3 separate regions of the Homo sapiens genome follow, and all the other regions are linked to region 1. The links come from fine-mapping of genetic effects on gene expression. A gene starts in region 1. Each other region holds a variant in brackets. All regions are shown on one strand. Distances are between the middles of the regions.

Region 1 (4,242 bases):
ATCAGGACAATGAGTCAAACCAAAAGTAATCAAGCCTTTATTCACTTACTGTGACAGTGCAAGCAAGTGGTAAAAAGAGGCACTGGCTCCCCAGTGGTCTACTAAATACAAGGACACTGGGTGAGGGTCAGTTGATGCAGTGCATATGAGGTAATCCTCTCACTGAAAGGAGCCCCTAACAAAAATCTCCTGCCTCTTATGGAACTTCAGAATAGGAAAGGGAGGGGAAGGTCTAGGAGTGAAAGAAGCTGGGTCAAAAATGGAGAAAAGTGTCTTAGCCACGGTCCTTCCTAGGAGGGCCTCCAAATGGAGGTACCCAGGCTAGGAAAGAAGTTATGGGATTTGCATATCTAGCAGGAGGGGCAGGGCAAGTCCTTGACTGCAACCCCCTCCAGAAAACTGCAATGCACCGGCCCATATCGAGTATGGTGTGGGAGGACAGCTTGGCCCTTGAGGCCAGTCAGGCAAAGCCTGGTAATTGTCCAATGTCAGGACTGAATGATCACACAGGATTTTGGTATAAAGCCAGATTCAATTCCTTTTGTATGTTTCTTCTTCCCTTTAATAAATGCTTTCGTGGAACACGCCTAAAAGAAAAAAATCACACACCACAACTACCTCTGATTAAAACAGGGATTGGCTACCTACAGCTCCTGTACCAAAAAGGAGCTACGGTTAATCATCCATTGTTAGCACTAAGATTGGATAACTGTTGTCACTTGCCTCCCACCACGTGGAAAAGCACTTACTGGGAGCCCTAGATTGTTAGAACCATTAGTGGCAAGTGGTGATCCTATCTCCTGTTTATGAGAGTCAGGTTAGGGATCCTCACCTCACGCACTCATGGAGCTCCAAATCCCATTTCAACCGATTTTTGTTGATAACATAAAAATAAAAAAGACTGTAATTTTTCTTATCTTAAACTGAAATAAAAGAATAGTAGATCTGCTCAGTGGTTCAATCCAGAATTTATCCTGACAAGAACAAGATACTCTACGTGAAGACTGTAAAAACTGTAAAAACTGACCTCAATAATATCCAATGTTGCCTCAAGGCTGAAAGCCTGTTGATTTTCTTGTCTTGACTAGTACCATTAAAACGATGTGAGGATTTCACGAAAGTAAGCGAACAAGAAATGAAAGACCTAAGAGAAACACACACAACTTTCAGTTGGGGAATAATCTCCGGCGGCTGCTTCTGCCCCACTCGCCCCGGGCCCATTCTCTTGGCCTTGAACCCTCACCTCTCCCTCCCAGTGGACTACACTGGACAAAGGACACTGACACACAGTCCTCGTTCTAAAGGCCCACAACCAATAATAAGCACGTAATGGTCGAGCCGAGTCCAGAAACCACAAAATCCCACGCCAGGAAAGGAAGGGTAAGGGTAAAAACTGCTTTGGCTGCAGCCAGGATGAAAACGCCACATGTGATACAACCCACAGCAACAACAAAAAAAAATCCCTCTACGCCTTCCTCTCAAATTTCTGCTCCGCGTGAGACGCACTCAATAGGTGGGGAAGTGAGAAAGCAAAAGGAGCTCAGGAACTGAGGTTGTGGAGCCCCCGTTCTTGGGTCCCCAGGCACCTTGGCGGTATTGAGGCAGGTCCGACCCTCCCTGGGGGTCGCTCCACTTCTCAGTCGGGTTTCTGAAGTCCTCCTCACGCATCTGGAGCTGGCGAGGGCCCGGGAGGCACGCACCTCAGGCCCAGGTGCCGCGAAGGCAGCGCGCGCACGTCCGCAGGGCCGGCGCGGCAACGGGCTGAGCGCGCAGGCGCGGCGCTCTGGCGCGCCCAGGGACACAGTCCGGCTGGAAACAAGCTCCCCCCAATTTCAGGGCCGTTGTCGCCTCCGGGCGGTCCGCGGGTCCCGAGCGGACTGGGACTCTGGAGACGTGCCCCCAACCCCACCGCCATTCACCCTGTCATTGCAGGGGAGAGAACAGAATAAAGACGGGTACATTTTCCATCTCACCTCTGAACCTCGGTTAGGAAAACGCTGTAGCCCTGACTAGTGGGCTCAAGGGCCGACTGGAAAAGGGCGAGTCAGCGTTCAAAGCCGATTCGGGGCAGCCCTCTCTAACGCAGAGGGCCGAGGATAAGAAGACGACAATGTGTTAGGGGCCCTCCGGGCTAGGACTGTCCTCACCACTTTGTACATTGCCAAAGTAAATATAACGTAGAGGTCAAGCGCAGGCGCTTTGTGGGCAGACATGACTGAGCTCCACTCGCGACTCCTCTAATGGCGTGCCAGCTGCGGACCTCATTAGCCCCGCCTCAATCATTCAGTATGTTTTGGTTGTCTACAGTGTACGAAGCCCTGTTCTCACAATTAGATAAAATGAGTGTGAAGTGCTCAACATAATTCCTAGTGTAGTAGGCCTTCAAAGAACTATTATCATTATTAATTACTCATATAGAATACAACTTTATGAAATGATAGGATCCCATTTTAAGATGAGGAAAATGAGGCTATCAGAGACGTTAAGGAACTTAATGTCACACAGTTAATAAACGATAGAGGTGCGATTTGAACACAGGTTGTCTAATACCAGACCTGCATTTATAACTGCTGCTTCCCAAGTTATAGATATTTCAGCATTTTATGTAGTCACAATTGAAGACCAAATATTTAGTTACAGACTAAGTTGGCATGTTATTACTGAATAAGATGCTAAGGTATCTACTAAAGATTTTAAGTGCAAAAGGCATTAGAGAAGAATTTACTGTGGATTTTTTGCAGGTTCTGATTGTAATTGTATCACCTTGAGAAAGGAGGAAATGAAAGCAGATTATCAGGCATACTTTTTTAACTCTAAGCAACTTTTTGCATTACTTTCTAAGGACCATCAGCAACAAAAATCAATGGTTTCTAATGTTGATATATTTTCCTCTACCAAAAAAATTAAAGCAGCTGAGCCAACAAAAATTCTCTGTTTTGGATGTGTTAGCATGAGGAAATGGCGAATAGGAAATGAGCTTTTGCTTCTCATGTAGGAACCCTGAAGGAGTCAGATTTGGGAGGGGTTGAAGTCTGCTTCCAACAGAAGCAGGGGTGGAGAAGGGAAAGGAAAGACTTCTGGTGTCCTAAATGCTAGTCCCAAAGTGGGGATGCTGTTTGTCCGGATAACCCTTGTAAATCTGCTCCATTCTGCAGCTACTCCTGGGAAACTTAACTCAGCCAAATAATGCAAACAATTGCATCCATCATCAGCCACATCAGCCTTAGGAGATACATCCATATCATGAGAAAACACTACCTGAAATTGGGGACCACTGGAGGGTGAGATTCGTTCTTTATCCATTACCTGCAAAACAAATTGGCCTTTGCATGGAGAGTCTGAATATATATTGAGTGTGAAAGCAGTTAGGACTTGAATAGGCTATTCTCCAAGGCCACATGCCCCATGTCATAACCTCCCCCATTTACCGTGAGAGCTATCTCAGGAGCCTTCTGGAAAAAAAAGAGAAATTAACATGAATAAGAGTAATCAAGGAAGATTTCATTGAATATGTGAAATTTGAACTAGCAGTAGTGGGTAGACTATGAATAAATAAAAAATGTGGGGGCAGGACAGAACATGGTAGGGCAGAGGTGGCAGGGTGAAGAAAAGATAGTATGAGAATGAAAAATAAAGGGGGTGCATGACATACGTTTGAATTAGTATCTTAATGCTGCAGCTTACTAGTTGTGTCCTTAGAAGTTATTTAACCTAGGCTGGGCGCGGTGGCTCACACCTGTAATCCCAGCACTTAGGGAGGCCGAGGCGGGTAGATCATGGGTCAGGAGTTCGAGACCAGCCTGGCCAACATTGTGAAACCCTGTCTCTACTAAAAATACAAAAATTAGCCGGGCGTGGTGGCACGTGCCTGTAGTCCCAGCTACTCAGGAGGCTGAGGTGGGAGGATTGCTCTAGCCCAGGAGTTAAAGGCTGTAGTGAGCCGTGTTCATGCCACTGCACTCCAGCCTGGATGACAGAGCAAGACTCTGTCTTAAATAAATAATAATAAAAATAGAAAAGATGTGCCACTGCACTCTAGCCTGGGCGACAGAGCGAGACTCTGTTTCAAAAAAAGAAAAAGAAGAAAAGACATATCAGGTACCAAGCTCTAAATATTCACTTCCAATTATATAAAGATGAAGCAGTTAGGCCCTGAACCTTAAATTAGTTTCTAGCCCAGAGGGGAAAATAACATACAAACAAGTATTAATACAATATGATAAGAGCAGATATATATAGGAG
Region 2 (4,242 bases), 44 kb after region 1:
TTTTGTGTTTTTAGGAGAGATGGGGTTTCACCATGTTGGCCAGGCTGGTCTTGAACTCCTGATCTCGTAATCCGCCCGCCTCAGCCTCCCAAAGTGCTGGGATCACAGGCGTGAGCCACTGCGTCCGGCCAGGATGCAGATTTTTTTTCTTTTCTTTCTTTTTTTTTTTTTGAGACGGAGTCTTGCTCTGTTGCCAGGCTGGAGTGCAGTGGCGCGATCTCAGCTCACTGCAAGCTCCACCTCCAGGATTCAAGCGATTCTCCTGCCTCAGCCTCCGGAGTAGCTGGGACTACAGGTGCGCGGCACCACGCCAAGCTAATTTTTGTATTTTTAATAGAGACGGGGTTTCACCATGTTGGCCAGGATGGTCTCGATCTCTTGACCTCGTGATCCACCCGCCTCGACCTCCCAAAGTGCTGGGATTACAGGCGTGAGCCACTGCGCCCGGCCTATCTCATCTTTAAAATGAGGATAATCACATCTGTCTTGCCTACAGGCCAAGTCTGTGACAGTACATTACAAAATATTAAATGTATGTAAATTCAAGGATCATTAATATTTAGAGATAACTGTGATATTTTCATTATTTTGCTATAAAAATATTGTCTGACACTAATTGTATCAGTAATCTACTGTGGCATAAGAAACTACCCTCTAAACTTATTGACTTAAAGCAACCATTTATTATTTCTCTCTTATAAGCCTACAAGTCAGCCAGATGAGTTCACTGGTCTGCATCAGGCTCAGATATACTTAGTTGGTCTTGCTTATGTTTCTGTGATCAGCTCGGGGGGTGGGCTGGTGCTGGCTGGTCTAGGATGGCCCCAGCTGGGATGATTTGGCCCTCTTTCATGTGGTCTCTCATTCTTTAGCAGGTAGCCCAGAGCTGTTCTCATGGCAAAGGAAGAGAAGGAAGTGAGAGAGTGCGTATAACACCTCTTGAGGCCTTGGCTATGAATGGGATCCCATCATGTCCCCCACATTGTAGTGACCAAAGCAATCTACAAGACAGCCTGATTCAAGGGGTGGACATGAGGACTAATGAATTTCACATCTTGATGGGAAGAGCTGCATATACACATTGTAAGGAGTAGGAAAAAGAGGAGCCATTTTGCCATGATCTACTACACTAATTGAGTCACATATTCAATTTAAGCCCTTGATTTTTAAAAATCTATTTTACTATGCAGTGATTTTTTTGAAATTTGCAATTTTTAGGTCACTGAGTTATCTATGTTTTAACATATATGCACATATTCACATCCATAGCTCACTGATTACACATAAACCTAAAATAAAACATTTGAATATATTTGCAATTATTGTGACCAGCTCTTACCTGGAAAAGCTGTTAGATGTATTCTTATTTATGTATTAACTCGCATTTGCTATATTAGCATTTACATAGGGAAATAAAACAAGCAGGAGGTCCAGTCAAAATAAGTGTTGGAATTCTGAGGGCTAACGCATTTTCCACTAGTGGATTTTCTGTTGCACTGAAATGATTAGTGCATTTCACTTCACTACTGATCCTATAAGCAGTCAGATTAAATACAGAGACAATATAAATAGAAAATCCAGGTCTTCAGCCCTGCCCTTGAAAATGAAAAGAACGAGTTCAGGAGATCAAGACCATCCTGGCTAATGTGGTGAAACCCCGTCTCTACTAAAAATACAAAAAATTAGCCGGGCA[C/T]GGTGGCAGGCGCCTGTAATCCCAGCTACTTGGGAGGCTGAGGCAGGAGAATGGCATGAACCCGGGAGGCAGAGCTTTCAGTGAGCCGAGATAGAGCCACTGCACTCCGGCCTGGGCGAAAAAGTGAGACTCTGTCTCAAAAAAAAAAAAAAAAAAAAAAAAAAAAAAGGAAATGAAGAGAAGAATTTTGGCTTTGTTTTATTTTGTTTGAGCTAGAATTAAACCCAACTGGATGACTACATTGATTAAATTCCATGACTGTGTGTTTAACTCATGATTTCACTTGGATTTAGGCATTTAGTTGTATAATGCCAAACATCTGGATGTTTTTTCTCTAGTGCCAAGTATATAACTGTGTGGAAGAATGTTCCAGTTTTGGCATTTACTTGGCATCCTTATATACACTCTTCAACCGGACGTACCATGTCACCTGAGGAACTCCAGAAATTTGGGTCAAAAAGATGTGTATTTCTGATTAGGTTTAATTCTTAAAACTGTAAATATAAGCTATCTGAATACATAAGCATTTGGCAATATTCTGTAGATTCTAACAGCCCCTCTCTCTATGTTGGCGTCATGTCCAGGAACATTTTAGATATACTACCATAACATTTTCTAAATGACTGTATTATAATTTAATGTTATATTTGGCAAACACAACCTAAAATACAGTAGCTAATAGTGCAAGCTCATTTTACTTGCATATCATTGTAAATCACTTTCATGTAGTACTTACCAAATGTGTCAGGTTATTACAATCTATTTAATGACTTAATGTGTAAGATGCATTGTTCTTAAATTCAATTATACCCTTTGCACCTCTGGAATTAAGGTCATGTCAGCATTTCTTTTATATAAGTGCTTGGGTTTAGCAGTTTTTAACTGAGTTATAAAAGTTGGCTTCCAAATCAAGCCTTAGTAATAAAGGTCACTGCCTGAAGGAATTCCCCTCCTCTCCAAATTTAGTACATATAATGTTTTGGTGCAACTCCTGCTTTCTAAAATAATTTTTCAGGAAAAAATTCATTATAGTCTTCATATGGCAGAAAGGAAGCTCTTTCATTTTCTGTTTGCTTTATAAGACTAAGCTTTTCTTCCTTGCAAAGTGACAGTCATCTCTCTATCTGGCTTTTAATATATTCTCCATCTCCATTTTTTTATTGGTTACGTAACCTCAAGCTGTCATTTAGCCACTTTGTGTCTCAATCTACTCATCTGTAGAATGAATTATTGACAGTACCTACCTCACAGAGTTGTAGTGAGGATTAGATGAGATACTATACACATGTGTTTGGGAAAGTACATATTAATTGCTCAACAAAAGTTAGGTTTTATTATTATTAGATAAGAGATTTAGGCCAGGCATGGTGGCTGACCTCTGTAATCCCAGCACTTTGGGAGGCGGAGGCGGGCAGATCACTTGAGGTCAGGAGTTGGAGACCAACCTGACCAACATGGAGAAGTCCTGTCTCTACTAAAAATACAAAATTAGCCAGGCATGGTGGTGCATGCCTGTAATCCCAGTTACTTGGGAGGCTGAGGCAGGAGAATCGTTTGAACCCAGGAGGCAGAGGTTGCAGCAAGCCAAGATCTTGCCATTGCACTCCAGCCTGGGCAACAAGAGCGAAATTCCATCGCAAAAAAAAAAAAAAAAAAAAAAGATTTAGTGTGAGTCTATTCCTTATTAGAGGAACATTTGAAAAAAACAGGCTACTGAGGTAAGATTTGGCATTTACTGAGAGGTATGGAAGAAGTTATGGCTATCAGACAATCATTACCCTAATGTCAATAAATAGATATTTTTAATTTTAGAAATTAATATTAATATTTTTATTATTCATCTTCAGGTTTGCTTAGGAAGAAAACAAGATTTCCCTGAAGCAGTTGAATTAGACAGGCAATTAGCCCTGTGGTGTTGAAACATTACTGTATGTGTTGCTAATGAAACACTCTAGGCAATTCCACTCGGCCGCATGTTAATCACAAGAAGATGGACACATTTTCCTGGGTGCAGAAAAAAGCCACTCCCTTACTGACTCATTCTTTAAAATATATATATGTATAATTCACGGACAGATACAGTTTTGGGCTGGGCGCGGTGGCTCACGCCTGTAATCCCAGCACTTTGGGAGGCCAAGGTGGGTGGATCACAAGGTCAGGAGATGGAGACCATCCTGGCTAACATGGTGAAACCCCGTCTCTACTAAAAACACAAAAAATTAGCCAGGTGTGGTGGTGGGCACATGTAGTCTCAGCTACTTGGGAGGCTGAGGCAGGAGAATGGTGTGAACCCGAGAGGCAGAGCTTGCAGTGAGCTGAGATCGTGCCACTGCACACTCCAGCCTGGGCAACAGAGCAAGACTCTGTCTCAAAAAAAAAAAAAAAAAAAAAAAGAAAAAGATTCAGTTTTGCATTGACCAAATACCTAATTTGTTCCTGAATAACCTGCAAAGAAATTCTCCTGCAAAAATTGGAAAGAGGCAGATCCACTGACAAAAAATAATTTGTTTTCCTCTGTCTGTACTAACAGTAGAATCTCTGCTTTCTTA
Region 3 (4,242 bases), 71 kb after region 1:
CCCTATTATTATCACTTAAATATTACTGGTTCCATAAATTACTTTTTCTTGTCTCAGAAAGCCTTCGCCTTAGGGGCTTCTGACTAGTGGAAATAGAGCCCTATGTCCTCAAGGTCATGGGCAAGGGCAGGTCACGGGCAAGGGCAGGGCATGTCTGTATAAAACGCCTTCCTGACTAGGTGTGGTGGCTCACGTCTGTAATCCCAGCACTTTGGGAGGCCGAGGTGGGCAGATCACCTGAGGTAAGGAGTTCAAGACCAGCCTGGCCAGCATGGTGAAACCCCATCTTTACTAAAAATACAAAAATTAGCTGGGCATGGTGGTAGGTGCCTGTAATCCCAGCTACTCGGGAGGCTGAGGCAGGAGAATTGCTTGAACTTGGGAGGCAGAGGTTGCAGTGAGCCGAGATCGTGCCATTGCACTCCAGCCTGGGCAACAAGAGAGAAACTCCGTCTCAAAAAAAAAAAAAAAAAAAAAGAAAAAAAGCCTTCCTAAAGCAGGGTTCCAAATGAGGATCCTGAAGTTCTTGTGGGCTATAATCCCTTTCAGTTCCCAAATGAAAAGTGAATCTGATGATTTATTCATTTCTGTAGGGGCTAAAATGCCATTTGAAGTTATCATTGAGGCATTAAATTTTCCTCATCTGCAAAGCGTAAGGTTCCAAATACCTAGAGAGGTGAGGCTGTGAGAGATGGGAGGATGAGAGAGGTCGTTCAAAGGCTGCGAAGGAGAATGAGATAGAAGAAGTGGGCCTGCCACTCTTGGAACGTGAGCTTTGTTTGGAGGAACTCCTGTAGAGACTGGAGGGGGAAGTGGCAAGGTAAAGAGCTGCCTCCACTTTTATGTTTCATAATACGTTTTTTAGATGTTTCTTCCCAGCCAGAAATTGTCAATATGATTAAGAGTCAGCTGTCTGACCTCAAAAGAAGGTGGCCAGCTGCCCTTTAAATATGTCTCTGCAGTTGAGGGCATCCAATAAAAGCCAACTTGGTATGAAAAACCAATTTTTTTCTTTGCTGTTTATGTTTTTTTTTCTTAAAAAGCTTTGAACAACATAGCAAAAAATAAGAAAGGAGGGCTGTGCTCCAGATGTGCAAGCTTTCCTAGAAGAAAAAAAGATCTGAAAAGCTTCTTCACCACCTGTCCTGGTGAGGCAAGCAGAGGACTTGACTCCACATGAGAAAGCTAATCAAAGAAAAAACTCTACTTGTCAGAATTTTCTCTCTAGTTTTCATCGTACAGAGGCACATCCTGACAAACTATAGAGTCCCTCCACTGACCAAAAGCGAAAAACAAAAAGACAAAGTAGCTTAAAATAGGGCTGAGTAGGACTGAAAGTTTAAGGAACTATTAAAAACAAAGGAAACACGCTAATTCTACCCAACAAAGAAATAGGAAACACGTCAGAAGACAGAAGGGAAAGAAAGAAAACCTGCTACCCATGTTTAATCTTTGTCTACTCCCAGAAGACTCACAAAATTTAAAACAAGTACAAATGAAAATACAGAACACACTTTAACAAAAACAGATCAGTAGGTGGTTACCATGTGCCTACTTAGAGCAGCCCCTATTTCTCAGGGCCACGAGAGTGATAGCACAGATGAATTAAGCCCACACGCCCAAAGCAAAAATTTCATTTTGGTCTTTAGTCTTATTCTCTTCTCAACTAGAGACTAACAAAAGTAAGTCAAACCACTTCGAGTTTCAGCAGTTTTCCTTCTTATTTCTGTACTAAAGAGTTATGAAAATGGCTCTTGGCAAATATGAGGAAAAGGAAAAGCAACAAGCCTTATTTGACTGCACTGAGGCTGTCTGTGCAGACTTTTCAGAGGTGGGGTTGTCAGTGCAAGAGACGAACAGCACATAGGGCTCTTAGCCTTGCCACTTTGTTTGAAAGGCTATAGAAACTGACTGGTAGGTGCCAGGCATTGTGATAGTTATTTTATATATATATATATATTTGCATTTAATCCTTCAGTAGCCCAGTGAAGTGGAAATTTGTATTTCTGTTTGTTTTTGTTTGTTTGTTTTTTGAGACGGAGTCTCACTCTGTCCCCCAGGCTGGAGTGCGGTGGCATGATCTTGGCTCACTGCAAGCTCCGCCTCCCAGGTTCACGCCATTCTCCTGCCTTAGCCTCCCGAGTAGCTGGGACTACAGGCGCCCGCCACCACGCCTGGCTAATTTTTTGTATTTTTAGTAGAGATGGTATTTTTTGTATTTTAGTAGTTTCACCTTGTTAGCCAGGATGGTCTCAATCTCCTGACCTCATGATCCGCCCGCCTTGGCCTCCCAAAGTGCTGGGATTACAGGCGTGAGCCACCGCGCCCGGCTTGTATTTCTGTTTTACACAAGAACTCAGAGTTCAAGTATCATGGTCAAAGTCATGTATTCTAAATGGG[G/T]GTGGGCCAATATTTGAACAAAGATCAGAGAAGAAGCAATGTATTTGCTGTGCTGTGAGCAGGCATATTTGCTCTGAAATTTGAACTGAGAGGCAGTTCTGAAATGTTCTGCAGACTGGGGCCCAGAATTGGTGCCCTGACAAACCAGAGCCACAGGCATGATGGTATAGTAGCCAAGGAATCAGCTCTCTATGGCAGGAATGAAGCACAGGCAGAGAGAAGGAGAGACCAGGAGCCACTGAGGGACAGGTGTGTGTGCAACATTTAAAGCTACAGATAGGCCAGGTGCAGTGGCTCACGCCTATAATCCCAGCACTCTGGGAGGCCAAGGCAGGCAGATTGCTTGAGCTCAGGAGTCAGAGACCAGCCTAGGCAACATGGCCAAACCCTGTCTCTACAAAAAATACAAAAATTAGCTGGGTGTGGTGGTGTATCCTTGTACATCCAGTTACTTGGGAGGCTGAAGCGGGAGGATTGCTTGAGCCAGGGAGGTGGATGCTGCAGTGAGCCAAGATCACACCACTGCACTCCTGCCTGGGGCACAGAGGGACACCCTGTCTCAAAAAAATTAAAAAATTAAAAAAAAAAAAAAGCTACAGATGATGCCTGGACCCTCTCCCAGGCCCACCGGATGGAAATCACCAGGAACTCAGACCACAGCTGAGAACACTGATCTGGCTTGAGTAGATTCTGTTCCTTGAAATCTTAAAATGACTTTGACCTTCCCCAGACACCTTGTCCTTTCTACTACACCTCATTGCCCTTATCTAAGCATAGAAATGCAGTGATTAATTCAGGAAAAAGGTAACAAAAAGAAGGAGAATACAAAAAGAAGGAATCTGATGGCTAGAAGCGTCCTCTCAGCTCAGCTAATGACCACTTTTGTGGTTATTTTTGTTTAACATTGTCAGAGTTTGCTGAAAGAATGTGGAATCTCATTTCTTGAATATTTGCAAAGAGGACATGTAGCCACCTACCAGAATGATTCCAGTGCCAATGCTTCTGCCTGAAAATCAATGAGTGTGTCTTTCTGTTTTTTTTTTTTTTTTCTCCAGACGGAGTCTTGTTCTGTCACCCAGGTTGGAGTGCAGTGGCATGATCTCGACTCACTGCAACCTCTGCCCCCGGGTTCAAGCGATTCTCCTGCCTCAGCCTCCCGAGTAGCTGAGACTACAGGCACATGTCACCACGCCTGGCTAATTTTTGTATTCTTAGTAGAGACGGGGTTTCACCATGTTGGCCAGGCTGGCCTCGAACTCTTGACCTCATGATCTGCCCACCTTGGCCTCCCAAAGCGCTGCGATTACAGGCATGAGCCACCGCACCCGGCCGAGTGTGTCTTTCAAGTCCCAGTCCAAGGATGTTACTGAAACCGCCTTTGCAAAAATTATAAATGAGAAAATTATGACTGATCTAACTGACTCCATCTTGCTTCTAACCTCCAAGCTGTCTTTGTTCATTCCTGGGCGTGGGCCCAACTAACTTTGGAAGAAATTTAGTTTACAGTTTAGCTTTCAAACAAAGACAATAACAGACCTTTCGCAAAACAAACCCCCTTCCTGCCTGGGGACGAGACTGCTTTTTTAGAACTAGCAAATTAGCTACAGGATTAGAAATTATGGTTTAGGAGTCACGCAGCTGGAGATTCTGAACCTCCTCAAATTGTTCCTGGGGATAACATCACTATTGTAAAACCTAAGATCAGTGCTTAACATACTTTGCAGACCCTACACTTGACGGATCAGCTGGCACCACCCAGACGGATAAACTGGCTCATCCTGTCTTGTGGCCCCCACCCAGGAACTGACTCAGCGCAGGAGGACAGTTTCAACTCGCTGTGAT

Evidence for each region.
Region 2: its variant is fine-mapped to the expression of ZNF770 in whole blood (TOPMed, PIP 0.96).
Region 3: its variant is fine-mapped to the expression of ZNF770 in nasal epithelium (TOPMed, PIP above 0.99).

The regions. Positions count from the first base shown.
Region 1 is chr15:34,986,530-34,990,771 of GRCh38, forward strand. It overlaps ZNF770 (zinc finger protein 770), which reads right to left and starts at 1,758. Exons shown (of 3, transcript NM_014106.4): 1 at 1,587-1,758; 2 at 1,028-1,144. LOC105370764 (a long non-coding RNA gene) reads left to right here and starts at 1,829. Exons shown (of 5, transcript NR_188212.1): 1 at 1,829-1,955; 2 at 3,156-3,281. RefSeq lists enhancers at 257-316, 397-446, 1,853-1,942.
Region 2 is chr15:35,030,143-35,034,384 of GRCh38, forward strand. No RefSeq gene overlaps it. Among named protein-coding and RNA genes, the nearest start is that of ZNF770, 44 kb to the left of the region's middle. The variant C/T (reference allele first, on the strand shown) is at 1,694.
Region 3 is chr15:35,057,460-35,061,701 of GRCh38, forward strand. No RefSeq gene overlaps it. Among named protein-coding and RNA genes, the nearest start is that of NANOGP8, 26 kb to the right of the region's middle. The variant G/T (reference allele first, on the strand shown) is at 2,401.